Regions from separate parts of the Homo sapiens genome. Here region 1 is linked to region 2. The links come from fine-mapping of genetic effects on gene expression. A gene starts in region 2. The other region holds a variant in brackets. All regions are shown on one strand. Distances are from middle to middle.

Evidence for each region.
Region 1: its variant is fine-mapped to the expression of SAYSD1 in whole blood (TOPMed, PIP above 0.99).

Annotation. Positions count from the first base shown.
Region 1 is chr6:39,138,472-39,146,809 of GRCh38, forward strand. No RefSeq gene overlaps it. Among named protein-coding and RNA genes, the nearest start is that of SAYSD1, 27 kb to the left of the region's middle. The variant A/G (reference allele first, on the strand shown) is at 4,688.
Region 2 is chr6:39,110,511-39,118,848 of GRCh38, forward strand. It overlaps SAYSD1 (SAYSVFN motif domain containing 1), which reads right to left and starts at 4,676. Exons shown (of 2, transcript NM_018322.3): 1 at 4,373-4,676. The coding sequence starts at 4,579. It also overlaps the pseudogene ANKRD18EP. RefSeq lists an enhancer at 4,270-4,559.

The DNA.
Region 1 (8,338 bases), 28 kb after region 2:
AGCTGTCTATTCGTTATCATGAGCATACAGTCAAGTTTTACATATAAGGAAAAGCTCTAATATGGAAGAAAAAACAATTTGGCAGAAACAAAAACTATGCAGGAAAATTTTATTTCCCAAATAAATTTTATAATCAATATTCATTGAGAAGTAAAAGAAATTCCATGAAACAAGAACAGTATGCTATAAAAAAGGAATACTTAAGGAGATTACAAAGCTCTTAAAAATTAAAAAAAGATAAGGAAAATGAAAAACCCTGAGAAGGAAGAAATATTGAAGAAATATCACCTCATTTCCATCTCCCTCCTCATAAAGAGCAAAAATATACAGAAAGAAACTAAAAGGAAACAGATGAAACTGAATAGAAGACCAGTCACGAAGTTTCAATACTGCAATAATAGAAATTCTAAAAAGAGAGAACAGAGAAAATGGGGAAGGGAAGACCCACTCATGACCTTGTCTACCTATTCCTCCAGGAGAGGCTCTTGTAAACCCTTGGGGAAGATGAAACCAGATTACCCAGACACTCTGTTCAGCTTATCTCTCTCCTGGGCACCTTTATAAAATAGGCAACACTACCCTTTAATTCTCAGCTAGATTTGTGCTTCTACTTAATATACATTGTTATGAGATATATACCTAGGTGGTAAAACTATAACGAAAATCAGGATGGGGCCAAGTGTGGTGGTTAATGCCTTTAAGCTGAGGTGGGAGGATTACTTGAGCAGCCCAGGAGTTTGAGACCAGCCTGGGCAATATACTTTATAGAGACCTGATCTCTATAAAATTTTTTTTTAAAGTTATCTGGGTGTAGCGCTGTGCAACTGTAGTCCCAGCTACTTGGGAGCCTGAGGTGAGAGGATCGATTGAGCCTGGGAGGTTGAGGCTACAGTGAGCTGCGGTCATGCCACTGCCCTCTGGGCTGGGCAACGGAGTGAGACCTTGTGTCAACAACAAGAAAAAATAATCAAGATAAACATGAGCACAAAAATCAAGACAGTGTTTACCTCTGGGGAGGAAGCTGGAGGTTTTATTTAGAAAGGGGCATTTGGAGGACTTCTAAGGTTAGTGTTCTAAGGTTAGTGTTCACTTTCTTAACTTTTGTAGTAAATACATAGGTATTAAATGTACTATATTTTAAACTCTACATATATCTCAAATACTCTTTTATACATACGATACACTTCACAATAAAAACTTCCATACCAAGAAGACACCAAAACAAACCTACCTTGTGAAGTAATAAGATTATATGTTCCCATGTACTGTGTAGTCTTTGAACAGAGGGAAATAGGAAAGGGGGTGCAAGAGCTCTCCCTCTTCTAGAGGCCTAATCAGGGGTGGCAGTAATCACAATAAAATACCCGACCAGCAGCACAATGCTGATTTTCAGACCTGTTTAATAGATACATTTTACAGTGGTTAGAATCCTATTGTAATAGCCTGGAGTCCATGAAAAACAGCTCTGCTGAGACCGGCAGTTAAAAACCATCCCCTAAGCTGTTAGTGAGAGGGTAGGTGGCTGTGTATTCTTTCTTTGCCCACTCTGATCCATTCTCTGCCCTTTCCACCTTGCTCTCTGCCCCAGGGGCTGACTTCTATGCACATCACCCACGGTCCTCTGTTCCTTGACTATCTGGGTTTTGCCAGTGGGAGGCACTGGCAGGAAATCAGAGGGGAGAAGGAAAGAGAAGTGAAGGGTATTTCCTCCCCTCTGCCTCATCATCCCTTGTTGTTTCTCTTAACCCCATACAGCCCGCCAAAAATAGTCCCTTATTACATTATTTTCAGTTAAATCCTTTTCATTATGTCTTTCGTATCTTGCCAGGACCCTGGCTGCTACATTATTTTAGTAGTTATATGTCCCTGCCCAGTGATCCTTTTTTATGTTAATGTGGATTTTGAGGTCCAAACTAGTCTTTAGAATTCCAAATAAGTACCTCTACTGGGGTGGCATTGCAGGCAGTATTCCAGAGACGTTCCCATGTGTGCTCTCAAATCAGACTGTGCAGTTGTGTTGTCTCCACAAGCAGCCTTGTCCAAGGGAAGATATGCATCTAAAAGCATCTCCCTCCAATGGGTGTCTGCAGCGCTAGCTTTTTCTGGAAAGGGTACACATTGGTTTAATACTTGATGAATTATACTGCTAGCTAAGGATGGAAAGGTCTGGGAGGATTTGCCTCTGGCTTGTGGAATTTGAATTCTGTCCCTGTCTCCACCCAGGCACTGGCAGGGATGCACAGTTCTCACCAGCATCCTTGCTGGTTTCTTTAAGAGATGACCTTTTCGTTTCCTATCATGGAATGAGTCGTCACTCATTCCACTCTTAGCATCTCTCATCATCTTCCTGTGGCCCTTCCCTTCTGAAGATCAAAGCTCATCTCAGGAGAAACTCCAGAGGGAAAAATAGCCAACAGAACCTCAGGCCCAGGCAGGAAAAGCAAGTAAACAAGTGATTGACGCACTTTGTACACAGGCTCTGAGGGAGGGGGGTGAGTGTGAGGAGGGGAAGTTGAGGAAGCTGTCCAGGATGGGGGCGGAGTCCCGGAGGGCTTGGGTAACAGCTCATTGTTCCTCAGGGCTCCTAGGGAATAAGGTAGGGCTCCAGCAAAACAAATGTGCCAGGAGGACAGGCTATTTGTGTTGATAAACACAAAAAGAGGGAAGTGACTAGATGGAGGGAGGGTGCGTTTGAATGGAATGTGCCTGATTCTGGGAATCTGTACACTTGGCTCCTAGGGGACATGGGAGGAAGAGGGAGAAGGCACTGGGACAAAAGGAGACAGCATTGAGTACCGTTAAACATGCAGGACTGAGAGGTGGGCAGAGCTGGGTTCAAATCCTGGGCCCTCGCTTTCCTAGCTATGTAACTTGGACCTATTGTTTGATTTCTCCGGGCCTCGGTTTCATTATGTGTGAAATGGGAATGGTTCTTTCTCACCCTTAGGTTTCCTTGAAGACTTAGTAAGACAATGTACTTTAGGTGTCTGACACATGGAAATTTCCCCCCAAAAAAGTTTATTGTTGTTAGAAAGATGTTGTATCAGCGAGGGAGGAAGCGGTGTGCTGTGGGGAGGCAGCACTGCATTGTCAAGTTCCTGGGTTGAGTGAAGGCTCTGCCCCTAGCCATTGTGGGCGCCTGAGCAGGTACTCATCTCATCTCAGCTCATCTCCGGAGCTGAGGGTGCCTCCCGGGAATGACGGTGCTGAACAAGCGGATCTCCAGGGTTCATTCTAGTGCCTAAAGCCTGGGTTCTAAAGAACTATAACCAAAGCATGACTAGGAAATTCTCTGATTTAAAACAAAAATAATGCAGACACAGCCAAGTGAGGTTTGTGCCCATTAGAGAAGTCTCTTTGGAAATTTTACTCTTATGATAGTGGTGCTGCCGTTTCTCCAAACATATTCAGAATGGTTTAGAATTATCTGCAGAGCCAGTTCTGGGACCACATAAGACAATCATCTCATCGCTTTAGAGGAAACAAATGTCTTCTTTCTTTTTGTTTATTTTTATTTTTTATTTTTATCCAAAAAAAGGCTCTCATTCCCTTAAGGCAAGTTAGATTCCAGTTTCAGTTTTGTGAACTACTGGAGGATTGTAACTTCATCTCTTTTATCCTTAATTTCTACCTATAGAAATTGGGAATAATAATATCCACCTCAGAGCGTGGACACAGATAAGACAAGGACGCAGAAAGCAGTACCAAGCAAGATGCTGGGCTCAGGGTAGGTGGTAAAACACATGCATATGGGCCAGGCGTGGTTGCTTACGCCTGTAATCCCAGCACTGTGGGAGGCCGAGGCAGGCAGATCACGAGGTCAAGAGATGGAGACCATCCTGGCCAAAATGGTGAAACCCCGTCTCTACTAAAAATACAAAAATTAACTGGGCATGGTGGCGCACATGTAGTCCCAGCTACTCACGAGGCTGAGGCAGGAGAATTGCATGAACCCAGGAGGTAGAGGTTACAGCGAGCTGAGATCACGCCACTGCACTCCAGCCTGGTGACGGAATGAGATTCTGTCTCAAAAAAAAAAAAAAAAAAAAAAAAAGGCGTATGTGCATACGCGCAGACAGACAGACAGACAGACAGACCTTTATCCTTTCATTCCTTCCACATCCCAATTACCTATTTTACCACTTTATCTGCAGAATAAATTCACAGCCCACTAAACTATCAGGCTCCAAATAATTTTCATTCATTTTGAAAAATCAAATATACTTTCAGAGGAAAAGATTTGCCACCATGAAGGATATTCAAAGGGATGTGCCCAGACTCTAAAGATATCTATTTACACCATTTATATGTGTGTGTGTGTTTGTGTACAGTTGGTATTTAGTAAAATCCTTAGCCCCTCTGAATCCCGCAGACAGATCCACAGCCGGTGCTGTGATGCTGAGCCAAGATTCAGGATGATGGACAGGGGCAGGGAAAGATTGAGGACCAGGATTCACTTTGGAGCCAGCCAGACCTGGCCCCCAGGCTCAGGGAAACCCACTTTGGCTGGGTGACCTCCATCAGTCACATCATCCTTTGAAGTCTCAGTTTATTCATCAGGAAAATGAGGACAATAACATAAGTCTCATAAAGTTTGAGGATCGTTAAGTGTTAACTTCATAAACAAGCAAAGAAGAGGCACCAGTGGCTGGGAACGTTAATTCTAATTAAGGCATAAGGCATCAAC[A/G]TGCTTGCATGATATCTCGTGTAGCAGGAAAAGATGGAGTCAGAGGAAAAGGCAGATATGCAGGCTTAACTCTGTCCCAGCACACCTTCTAGAAAGAAAACAGCTGTCTCCTGTAATGTCCAGCTCCCCTGCCCTTCCTAGGTGGAAGGGTGGTGTTTTGTTCTCTCCCGAGGAAACCATTTCTCAGTCTCTCACCTGGTGTAGTCCATTGGGCCCTGAAGCTACCAGGCCAGTTTCAGTCAGTGTTTATGAAATGCCTTTGCCGGAGGCTACCTGATTGGCTTATCAGCCCTGGCCCTGGTAGCATTTCCGTACAATGAGCAGTGACATTTACAGCTTCAAGAAGTGCAAGGGAAACATTTTTCTTGCAGACTCCTCTTTCTCTCTCTAATGAAGCGGTCATTATAATCTTTCAGAGATGGTGCTCAAAAATGTACCCTAGCTTCCCACAGGAGAAACACTGTAAATGTCAGACACCCGATCACACTGTCTGTCTGGAGTGCATAAAACCAGCTGCTTGAACGCTGGAAAACAAAAGTCATGTTTCTTCCTGTTCTGCAGCCAAGCCTGGCTTCCGCGCATGTGACCTGTGCGGTCGCGCGGAGTCCTTCACTCAGAAGCCTCTGTTCTTGGTTTAATAATCTGCATCTAAAACTGGCACTGTACCATATAAAAATGAATCATAAACTTTAGGCTAAGAATTTACGCTTCTTTGTTTTTCTTTACATAGTTACTTAATGTATTAGTCTGTTTTCCCACTGCTGATAAAGACATATCCAAGACGGGGTAGTTTATAAAGAAAAAGAGGATGAATGGACTCCCAGTTCCACGTGGCTAGGCCTCACAATCATGGTGGAAGTCAAAAGGCACGTTTTACATGGCAGCAGGCGAGAGAAGAGAATGAGAGAGCCAAGTGAAAGGGGAAACCTCTTATGAAACCATCAGATCTCGTGAGACGCATTCATTACCACAAGAAGAGTATGGGGGAACCTCCTCCATGATTCAGTTACCTCCCACCCACCCTGCCAACAACATGTGGGAATTATGGGGGCTACAATTCAAGATGAGATTTGGGTGGAGAGACAGTCAAACCATATCACTTAGTCTTTACTTAAAATGGGGTCTCACTAAGTTACCCAGACTGCTCTTGAATGCCTGGGCTCAAGCAGTCCTTCTTCCTCAGCCTCCCGAGTATCTGGGACTACAGGTGTGGACCACCATGCCTGGCTCCCTCTTTGTACTTTAAATAGCAAATAAAAAGCACCACAAGTTGAGGGATTGCAGAAGAAAGGAGAAAGCTCTTTGTTTTTGTATATGTAACAGCACTTTTGTTCTGCTTTTTGAATGAGGAGCGCTGCATTTTCATTTTGCACTGGGCCCCACAAATTATGTAGCCAGCCCTGTCTGAAGCAGTGTAGAAATAACAGCTGTCTTTATCAGAAGGATAGGAAATAAAAATAAACACAAATTATGAGCACTCTGGCATAACTCACCTAATGATAACCCCTCTCATTGAGACCTCCCTTCTCAGTGTGTGGGCTACTCACTGTCCATGTTTATTCTTAACTGCACTGAAAACTACCCACTGCTGGACACATGTTTCTCTCCATTTCAGTTGCTTGATATTTGATATTCTGAGATTGAATGTAGAATACTGTTTCAGGAAATTACAATTTCATAAACCCTGTGTGAAAAGAAAAGACTCTTCTTTGTCCCTGGACATCTCTCAAAGGCCCTGTCTCTCCATCAGTCTCTCTGCCTCCTGGCTCCTTCTCTTCCACCACTGCCAGTTTTCTCACCCACTTCACATTTCCTGGAGATGTTGGACTGGAGTCACTAGTGGCCCAGAATTCAGACAGGCAACCATGCTCTCCTCTACAATGATAGTGCAGGACAGTAGACAGAAGCAAACATATCTCAGTCACATACTCACCCCCACTTAGGTCAAGCCACACTGATGAACCACAGTTTGGCCTGAGTTCAGCTAAGTGGGATTTCCCAAAATGTGCTTTGAGGGATACTAAGCCCTGAAGATGCCCTATGAGAAATGTGTTCAGCGCTCAAAGGTATTCAAGAAGAACTGCATAATTGCTCCTCTTTTTGAAGACTCACAAAGCACGGTAGCATCATTAAAGGCTCTGAGAAGTTCTGCAGCAGAAAACAAGCACACAAAACATCCAACCTGTTTCACTTTGATTAACCCAGAATTTCCAAAACTTGTTATTTTCCAAACTGGTTTTTATCTGCTTCTTTGGTGTAACACCTTTGAACATGCCCAGAATCAACAGCGTGTTCCAAGCCAGGCTCTGCACTCACACTCTCTAGATTCACCTCATGGATCCCGGGGGATCCATGCTTGTGCCAGGATCCCGGAGGAAGTCTCTTAATCTCTCCAAACCTCAGTTTTGTCGTTAGTAAAATGGTATTAATAATCCTAGTTTATAGGGTTGTTGTGAGGATTAAATAAGATCACATGTGAAACATCCGCAGCAGGCACTTGATGAGGTTGTTATTAAAACGCTAAGGATGTGTTTCCCTCCCTGCCTGCAGCAGTCATATCCTGTCCGTCTTCATGTTTCCTGGTCCATCTGTCTCTGTTTTCTTAACCTTCAACTTTGGGCTCAACTTTGGGTTCATTATGAAGTCAGCACCCACCAGCCCAATAACCTTGTGTCTGTGGTTCTCATCTACCAGTGCTGGGGGCAGTTTTATAAATCACTTTTTCTTATCCCCATCCTGAAACTGGACTACAGTGGGGAGTGGATCAGAGGAGGTCAAGAAGCTACTTTTTGCTAGCCTATGATGAAAAGTTTATGGTTTGTGTCCTAATTTGAGAAACGTGGGGTTTTTAAAATGAGACATTCCTTTAAAGGCACCCAAGTGTTTACAGCTATAAATATCGCAATGCAATAAAATCTGGCTGGGCCCTCTGGCTGGTGAGAGACAGACACCCAGCCCCGAGCTCAACAACATCCAGAGGCAGGACATCATATTCATGGAAGATTCTGGTTAGTGGGACTCTGTTCTATGATAAGATTTTAAATCAATGCAAGAGCACCAATGCAGTTAATGCAATGTTCTGTGCCAGGCTGGCTATTGCTGATTCTTTCTCTGCTTCTTAGGTCATCACGACAGCTCTAATCACAGGGCCTTGTCTCTCTCTGATGGGCCTGATAAGGAGGATCCAGGGAACCTTCCTGAACCTACTGGGTAAATGCAGAGAGGAGAGCATCATGAAGCCACTTTTTAGTGAGGTCTTTTGTAGAAGTAGGAGTCAGGGCACAAAGCAGAAACCACTCTGTCAAGCCCCAGTCAGACTTAATCCAAGCAATCAGATGTCAGGGGCCACCCCGAGGCTAATGGTTCAAGATCACATTTCCACAGCTGCAGGTCAGAGGTCAGGAACTGCTGTTGCTGCCCCTGCTGCTGTCACCATGGTTGTTGTGAGCCCATGAAGCTGGTGACCAACAACTGGAACTTGGTGTCTGGCTACTGCAACCACATCTGCCCCTTCTTGTTAACTTCTTCCTTCTAAAATTGCCTGAATGTATCTCAGCCTAAATCTCTCTAGCTCCAAGGGAGTCTAAAAAAGTAATTTAGAACCTTCCAGCCCTTGTAAGACAGGGGATGGGGGTACATGGAAGGGCATGG
Region 2 (8,338 bases):
TGGATGTCTATAGCAACAATGCACTACACTATGCTGTGTATAATGAGAATACACTACTGGCAGAAAAACTGCCCTCACACCATGTGAATACTGAAGTGCTGAACAAGGATACTGAAGTGCTGAACAAGGATGCAAACACACCACTTTTACTTGCTATAGTTTGCAAAACACAGCAAAAGGTGGAATTTTAGTGAAGAAACAAGCAAATGTACATGCTGTTGATAGGTTGAAAAGAACAGCTCTCATGCCTGTTGTACATTATGGCTTGTCAGGTATAGTTAGCATTCTTCTTCAACAAAATATTGTCTTTACTCAAGAGTATGTATGAACAGACTGCAGATTATGCTATTTCTGGTGGTCTGACAAGCACTCACAACAAATTTTGCAACATTAAAAAAAAAAGATACTTGAAAATGGTCTTCAAAATGACAACCCAGAAGAAGCATCCAAGAAGAATGCAAGTTTGAAAACAGGAGGAGCAAGTGCAAAAGATTCTGGGAGTTCTGAAGCATCTGCATTCAGTATTTAAAAAAAAACTGTGTGTTGACTCATGGCCTAAACCAGATGATGAAGACTTGACTTTTACTACCAAGCAGTGTATCCCTGAGAGTGTTTCAAAGTCTTTACTTGGACCTTCATATAAAAAAGGAAAAAATATATAGTAAATGGAAAGGGAGAAGGGCCTCCTGAAAAACATCCTTCCCTAAAGCCTACCATGGAAATGAAAGATTCTGTTGTGAAGAAAGCAATAGAAAGGAAGAACGAACAAACATCCAAAGCAGAACAAGAAGTACAAGTGACATCAGAGGAAGAACAGGAAAAGCTTGAAAGTGAAAATAAACAGCCACAGGTTGAAGAAGCTAGAAAGAAGCACGAAAGTTAAAAAAAAAAAGTATCAAAAAAACGTATATGATAGTACATCTGCTGACGATGATGATAAATTAATTCAACAAAGAAAGAGTGGAAAAACTTACCATCAGCGATTTCCTAGGAAGGAGAACAAAGAGTATGCTAGGCCTGCAAAGAAAATGTCAAATGAAAAGAAAAAGGTCAAAAAGCAAACTCATTTAGAGATGAACCTGATGACTTAACTCGGCCCTCTGAAACAGCTTCAGAGGATCATGAGAAACCTTACCCTCATTGTAAGAAGTTTATGATGCTCATTAAGCAATATGGAATGGATTGTAATGATTCTCGTATCCTAATGGAAGTCCAGAATGCATTTCTTTCATGTGAAAAGTCACTGGACCTTAAAAAAAATTATCTGTGAACAACTTACACTAGACAATAAGAAATATGAAAACTGAGTTTAGTGTACTGAAGGAGCTATCCAAAACACAAGAAACGAAGTCACAGTTCAATATCAAAAAGTAGAATGGAAACAGGAACTCTACAGTTTGCAGCTTAGAAGAAGATGAGAAGAAATGCTAATATGTTATATGAAAAAATTAGGGAAGAGTTAGAAAGGAAAGTGGAGCAACATAGGAAAGAAGTTGAAGTAAAAGAACAGCTTAAACTGACTATCGGATCACTAGAAATAGAATTGAAGGCTTGAAGAAATACTTTAAGAAAAAAAAAGATCTGATGCATGAAAATTGCTTGTTGAAGAGAGATATTGCCTTTATTGTGTATGTAAGTATACACAATAAAAAATAGGAACCTCGAAAGGGAAAAAGGACATTGAAATTGTTAAAGAAATGAATGATGACCTTCAAGAGACTATAAAACTGAATGGAAAAACATTAACAAAAACAGTATCCCAGTATGGTCAACAGCTTAACGACCTCAAAACTGAGAATACAATGCTCAAGTCTAAACTGGAGAAGGAAAATCAAAACAAGGAAAGACTGGAAGCTGAAGTTGAGTCATTCCATGCTAGACTGGCTGCTGCTATAAGTGAGTGTGATCAAAGTGTGAAAACAAAAAGAGACCTAGAACTTGCTTTACAGAGAGCACAAGACGTTTCTTTACAAGAAAGAAAATGAGTTCTGATATTTCTGAACTAAAAGATAATAATGAGTTTTTAACTGAGCAACTTTCCGAAGCTCGAATTCAATACCCTAAAAAGTAAACTCCATGACACAAGAAATTCTCTCAGAGAAAAGGTTTTGGTTTTATAAAGTGTACAAAAGGACCTAAGCCAAGTAAATCCTTTGGAAAGTGGGACTACGTAGAGGAGAGAATATCTCAACTACAACATGAAAATCTGTTGCTTCAACAACTAGATGGTGCTCATAAGAAAGGGGATAATGAACAAAAGGTAATTAATATCCAAGGATGCTGTCTTGAGAGTGAAAAGGAAGGTCTTCTGCTAGAAGGGAAAAATAAGGAATTAATCAATGAATGCAATCATTTAAAAGACTGTTTCAGTATGAAAAAGAGAAAGCAGAAGGAGAAGTAAGTATCAAAAAAGATAAATATTTTCAAACTTCCAGAAGGAAAATTTAAAATATTTGGCTACGGCTACATGTTGAACCTAGTTGAATATAAAAATTAATAGACAAAAAATGTGTTTACCATACTGTATAATTCCATTTACATGAAACATCCGGAAAAGACAAATGTATAGATAGAAAGCAGACTGACATTTGTGCGGGGCTGGGGTTGGAAATGGGTAGTAACTGCTAATGTGCAAGAGGGGTCTTCTTGGAGTGATAGAGACGTTCTAAAGTTGCAGTGATGGTTGCATGACTCAATAAATTTACTAAAAATCTTTGAACTGTATGTTAAAAGAGATAAATTCTGTAGTATGTAAACCTTATTTCAATAAAGCTGTTTCAATTAAAAAAACAAAAATTAAAAATAATTTAAAAAAATAGAATGCTAAAGAAATCTCTGACAGGCCACAGTGTGCCATCAAAATTGTCTGACATGAATTGTAAATTAGACTTTTTCTTTTCTAAACTAGAGGCAGAATCTGAAGAAAAAAAATTAAATGAGAATTTTCACACCAGAGCAAACCCAGAAATGATAAGTCAATGAAAATGAGCTTAAGGCAGAGTCCCTTATGGAAAAACAGAGCAATTAACAAGAAACTGGAGGTCCAGCATTTCCTCTCATCCTTTTGTCTGGCAATCAGCGTTTGGGTTCTCAATAATGGAAGTTTTTCTCTGAATTCAGTTTCTCTGGGTCCACCTCAATGATCTCATTCCTTTGGAAATGAGACATACAGTCAAAAGTTCATTGCATGGGTTAGACATTGTTTTTTAACTGCAGAGAGAAAAAGAATAAGGGAAATGGTTTCTAAAATCTTAAGCAAGTGTTGTACTTAGAAAGTTCTAGTCAACAATAAAATTATCCAAAGACAATTAACACAAACTGCACACAAGGAAATGGATTGTCTGAACTCTGCTGCGCTCTTTTCACCTTTCTGCAAGTCAGCTGGAATCCTGTATATCACTGAGAATATCAAATCAAAATTGAGTAATAGGTTCAGTAATTTTTAAAAATTCCCTCAAATCAAATGTTGTGCAATAATAGATGAACTTACAGGAAATAATTTTAAGGTGAGCAAGGTACACTTTTCTTCCAGTATATTTTCATTTTAAAAGGAATTTTTTAGTTCTTATTGCACTTATGAGGAACAAAGCACTGGGCACAAATTGTTACAAAGCACTCATCCCTTGATATGTTTTGTCTTGTATTTCCACATAGACATTTCAACCTCACTGCAAGCCACCTTACCATTTTACTGAGTTAAAACTAAATGAAAACACAAAAGGATGCAAATTAAATTCATCTGCAAAACAAGAGATTACCAAAACAATTAAATGTGAAAAGGTTATCATACTAAATCACTTTTTTTTGTTTGTGTCTTGAACATTCACTATGGAACTGGAATAAGCTTCTGCCACTACCGGCAGTTACAGCTACCACACTTTGGTAAATTCTGTATTCAAACGCATTTCTAAGTCACAGGCTATCTGGGCTACTAGCTGCATGTGCCCCAGGTGCGAATCAAATGAAGTTTTAATTACTGCTACTTGTGATCGGTATCCAATTAGACCTTTTACCCTCCTCCATTAGCAGAGGGCTGTGGCTCAACTTGGTTGTGGAGAGGTTTCCCAATGCCACAGGGCGTCACGATAACTCAATTCGGAGTGAATAATTTAAGAGCAGAGGTGCTTTCTCCCAGGACCCTCGACTCTCGCTGGAATCAGGACCTGCGTGGGTCGCGGGCTGGAAAGAAAATGTCAAAACTGGTAACAGTGCTGACACGTGTGGCCGGAGATGAGCGGTCCGGCCCTCGATCAGGATGGGGGGCCAGTAGCCCCGCCTCCGGCAGCTAGGGCCACACCCCCGGCAGCTAGGGCCGCGCCCTCGACTGTGGCTCCGAGGCCAGGTCCTAGGGCCGAAGTTTCCATCGTCTCACCTGAACTAGGCCGGGCTGGGCCCGGGCACTCGCGGGCCTAGGTTTCCATACCAGGAACCGCTTTAGCCAGCCTGGGGCTGCCTTTAGAGTCGCTGCTGCTTCCGCCTTCTCTCCTGGGGTTTGTGCGCCCTGACTGGCAGCAGGGGGTTGGGCCGCCAGACCCGCCCGTTTCCGCGCCGCCCGAAACTCAGCTAACCGCTGTTCCATGGCGCGCGCCTCGCGTCCGTTGGCCGATAAGGGAGCGCGCGCCCGCAGGCCGCACAGCAGTTGCCTCCGCTCGGCCCGCGCCGGCCGCCGTGCGCCTGCGTGGCAGAAGCCCCTGCTGAGCATGCGCACTGGTGTGACCCGCGTCTCCTCCGTTTGTGAAGTCTGGCGGGTCGCGTGTATACTCAGCCGTTCTCTCTTCACAGGCACGTGGACACAGTGTCACCTCCTCAAGCCAAGTCTAAAGCACAGGGCTGCCCCATTGCCCTCTCCCAAAGGCCGCTCTGCCTTGCTGCATCTCACTTAAGGGCTCGAGGCCCCACTGATCCAGCGTCCTGTATTCGGGATCTCTGTTGCTGGGCCCCAATGAACAGCGCCACAGTGAGAAGATGGTTCCAGGGGTTAGGAGAGGCCCGTGATCTCTACGACATTCCAGCGTCAGAGGAATAACAGGCTACATCTTACCCTTTTTCTCTTATCAAGGAAAGGGTATGCCAATCTTAGTACCTGGAGGGTGACTTTCTCACTGCTCACAAAGCAGGCTGTGCAGCTCCATCATTGGTCTTGCCACGTTGGGAAATTATCTCGTTTTGTGTCTAGATACGTCAGAACCTTAAAAAAACCAACAACAAAAACTTTTATTGGGGTGCAACATAAAATACACATCTTAAGAATATGACTCAGTAGATTTGCTCTTATGTATGCACCTGTGTAACTACCACCCAGATGGAGAGAAAGAACATTTCTGTACTCTGGGAGTTTCCTTGTGCCCTCTCCCAATCAGTACCCTCCCAAAAGGACACAGTTCAGGTTAGGGGCTGTTTTATACGTTCTTAAAGCTGTAAGCATCTAGCTAAGTGTCACTTACATAATTAAGACTCAAATATTTGTTGGATCTGGCTGAGGGTGACTCGAGAAATTAGACAAATTAGAACAGAGTCATCCATTCATTTAACAGACGTTTACCTAGGGCCTGCTCTGTCTAAAGTCACAGGCACTGGGGATGCTGGGATGAAAGGAAAAAACAAACAAAAACCTGTTTTCTTAGAGCTTACACTCCAAATGGAAATACAGACAATAAACAAATGTGTATCTACATATTTCATGTCATATCAGGTACTGATAAGTGCTGTGAAGAAAAGTGAAGCAAAGTAGGCAATGGTGGAGGTATTAGAGAAGACCTCCCTGAAGGTTTGTCATTTGGGCATAGACTTAAATGAGTGAGGTATGTAGATATCTGAACAGGAGTGTTTCAGTCAGAGGAACAAGTGCAAAGGTCCCGAGGCCTCAAATAGCACGCTTGACTTGTTCACAGAACATCAGGGAGGCTGTTATGACTGGATTGGAAGGAGGGAGAGGGAGGCAGGGAGGGAGGGAGGGAAGGAGGGAAGGAGGGAGAGAGGGGGAGAGAGGGAGGGAGGGAGGGAGGAAAGAGTGACAGAAAATAAAGATGCCAGGGGCAAGATCGTGCATGTAAGGCCCTGTAGGCCATGGTGAAGACTAAGTGTGGTGGGAAGCAGTTAGTGGATTTTGAGCAGGAGATGATATGATATGACATATTTTTAAAGGATTACACTGGCTGATGGAGGTGGGACCCTGGAAGATTGCAAGAATAGAAGAAGGGAAACTAGTTAGGAATAAATATGGTAGAATGAGAAACTGTAGTAGTTTGAGCTAGAGTGGTAGTGATGGAGGTCACGAGAATTGGTCAGATTCTGAATGTATTTTGAAGACCTGAGCCAACATGGTGTGAGACGGATTGGATGTGGAATGTGAGGAAAAAAGGTATCAAGGATGACAGGGCCAGCCATCGTGGCTCACGCCTATAATCCCAGCACTTTGGGAGGCCAAGGCAGGGGGATCGCTTGAACCTAGGAGTTCAAGACCAGCCTGGGGAACATAGCAAGACCTCATCGCTATTAAAAAAAAAAAAAAAAAAAAAGGATGACAGGTTTCTTCCATTACTACCCCACTCCTCCTGCCCCCCCATATACATACACACATGCCCTGAGCAACCAGGCAAATGATGCTGGGGCCCTCTATTGAAATGAGGGCACACTGGGAGGAGAGAATTACAGAATAAACACTGGAAGTTTTGTTTTGGACATACAAAGAACTTGGGATGCCTATTGGATATCCAAAAAATAGGCAGTTAGATAGTGAAAATGATTTGAGGGGAAAGTCAGGACCGGAGGCACACACTGGGAGTCATCAGCATGTGTATATTTAAAGCTGTAAGACTAGATAAGATCAAACAGTGAGTGTGGATAAGAAGAGATTTGAGGGCTGAGCCCTGAGTGGATTAGAGATGGTTTGTAAGAGAAAAGAATGGGATTATTACACCACAATGTCCTCTCTTTGAGAAACCACAAGAGGAAATTTCTTGCCCATTTTGGTGTCAGGAGTATGTCTGCTTCTCTTGAGAGATGGGATTCTTTAACCGATTTTGTCTCCCACTTGATAATGACTCTAAGACCTTAGGCCCGCATCTTGCAGGTGTATAGAATTAAGGCATACAATTTGTGGGCGGTTGCAGTCAGGGTCCCTGACAGGAAACGTGGCACCTTCCAAAGGGTGAAGTAAGAAGGGCTTAGTGAAGGAGTAAGTTACAAAGGTGTGGCAGGATGAAGGAAGCCAGCAAGGGATGGTTCACAGGAAGTGCTACCTGTCTCTAGGCCCAAAGCATCAGGAGGACAGAGCAGTTATCAGAACCCAGTGAGCCCTGTAGCTATAGGAGAAGCAAGGAGACACAGGAGCCCTTCAGGGAGCATAGAACAGGTAGAGAAGGGTGGAAAGAGGATCAGAAGAGGCAAACAGAACATCCAGGCCAGAGCTAATGTGGTTCCTGCTCTGTCTTGCTTTGGAAACCTTATTTTCTTTTTGCTTTGTTTTATTTATTATGAATTTACTTTTACTTGGTGCTTTGTAAGCCTCTTTAAATCCTTTTTGGAAGAGGTTAAAAGAATAGAAAAAAGAAAAGATGAAAGAGACCATCATGAAGAACAACTCCTGCCAAGCCAACTTTATTTCCTCTTTGGACGGGATTATGAGACTAGTAAATAAGAAGGGTCCCCAAAATGTGCTTAATGTGTGAATTTCATTAATTTTTATTATGAAATATTTTGTAAATGCCACATTTTACATATATATAATGTATATGCCATATACATAACATATATAATGTGTATGTGTCATACATATAAGTTATAAATAAAATACCCACATGATATGGTTTGGATCTGTGTCCCTGCCCAAATTTCATGTCAAATTGTAATCCCCAGTGTGGAGGTGCGGCCTGGTGAGATTGGATCATGAGTTTTTTTCTAATGGTTTAGCACCATCCTCCTAGTGCTGTCTTGTGATAGAGTTCTCACTAGATCTGGTTGTGTAAAAGTGTGTGGCATGGCTGGGTGCAGTGTCTCACGCCTGTAATCCCAGCACTTTGGGAGGCCAAGGCAGGTGGATCACTTGAGACAAGGGGTTTGAGACCAGCCTGGCCAACATGGTGAAACCTTGTCTCTACTAAAAACATAAAAATTAGCTGGGCATGGTGGCACACGCCTGTAATCCTAGCTACTCGGGAGACTGAGGCATGAGAATTGGGTGAACCCAGGAGGTGGAGGTTGCCGTGAGGTGAGATCGTGCCACTACACTCCAGCCCGGGCAACAGAGCGAGACCCTGTCTTGGAAAAAAAAAAAATTGTGGCACTTTCCTGCCCCTTCTCTCTTCCTCCTGCTCCAGCCATGTAAGACCTGCATGCT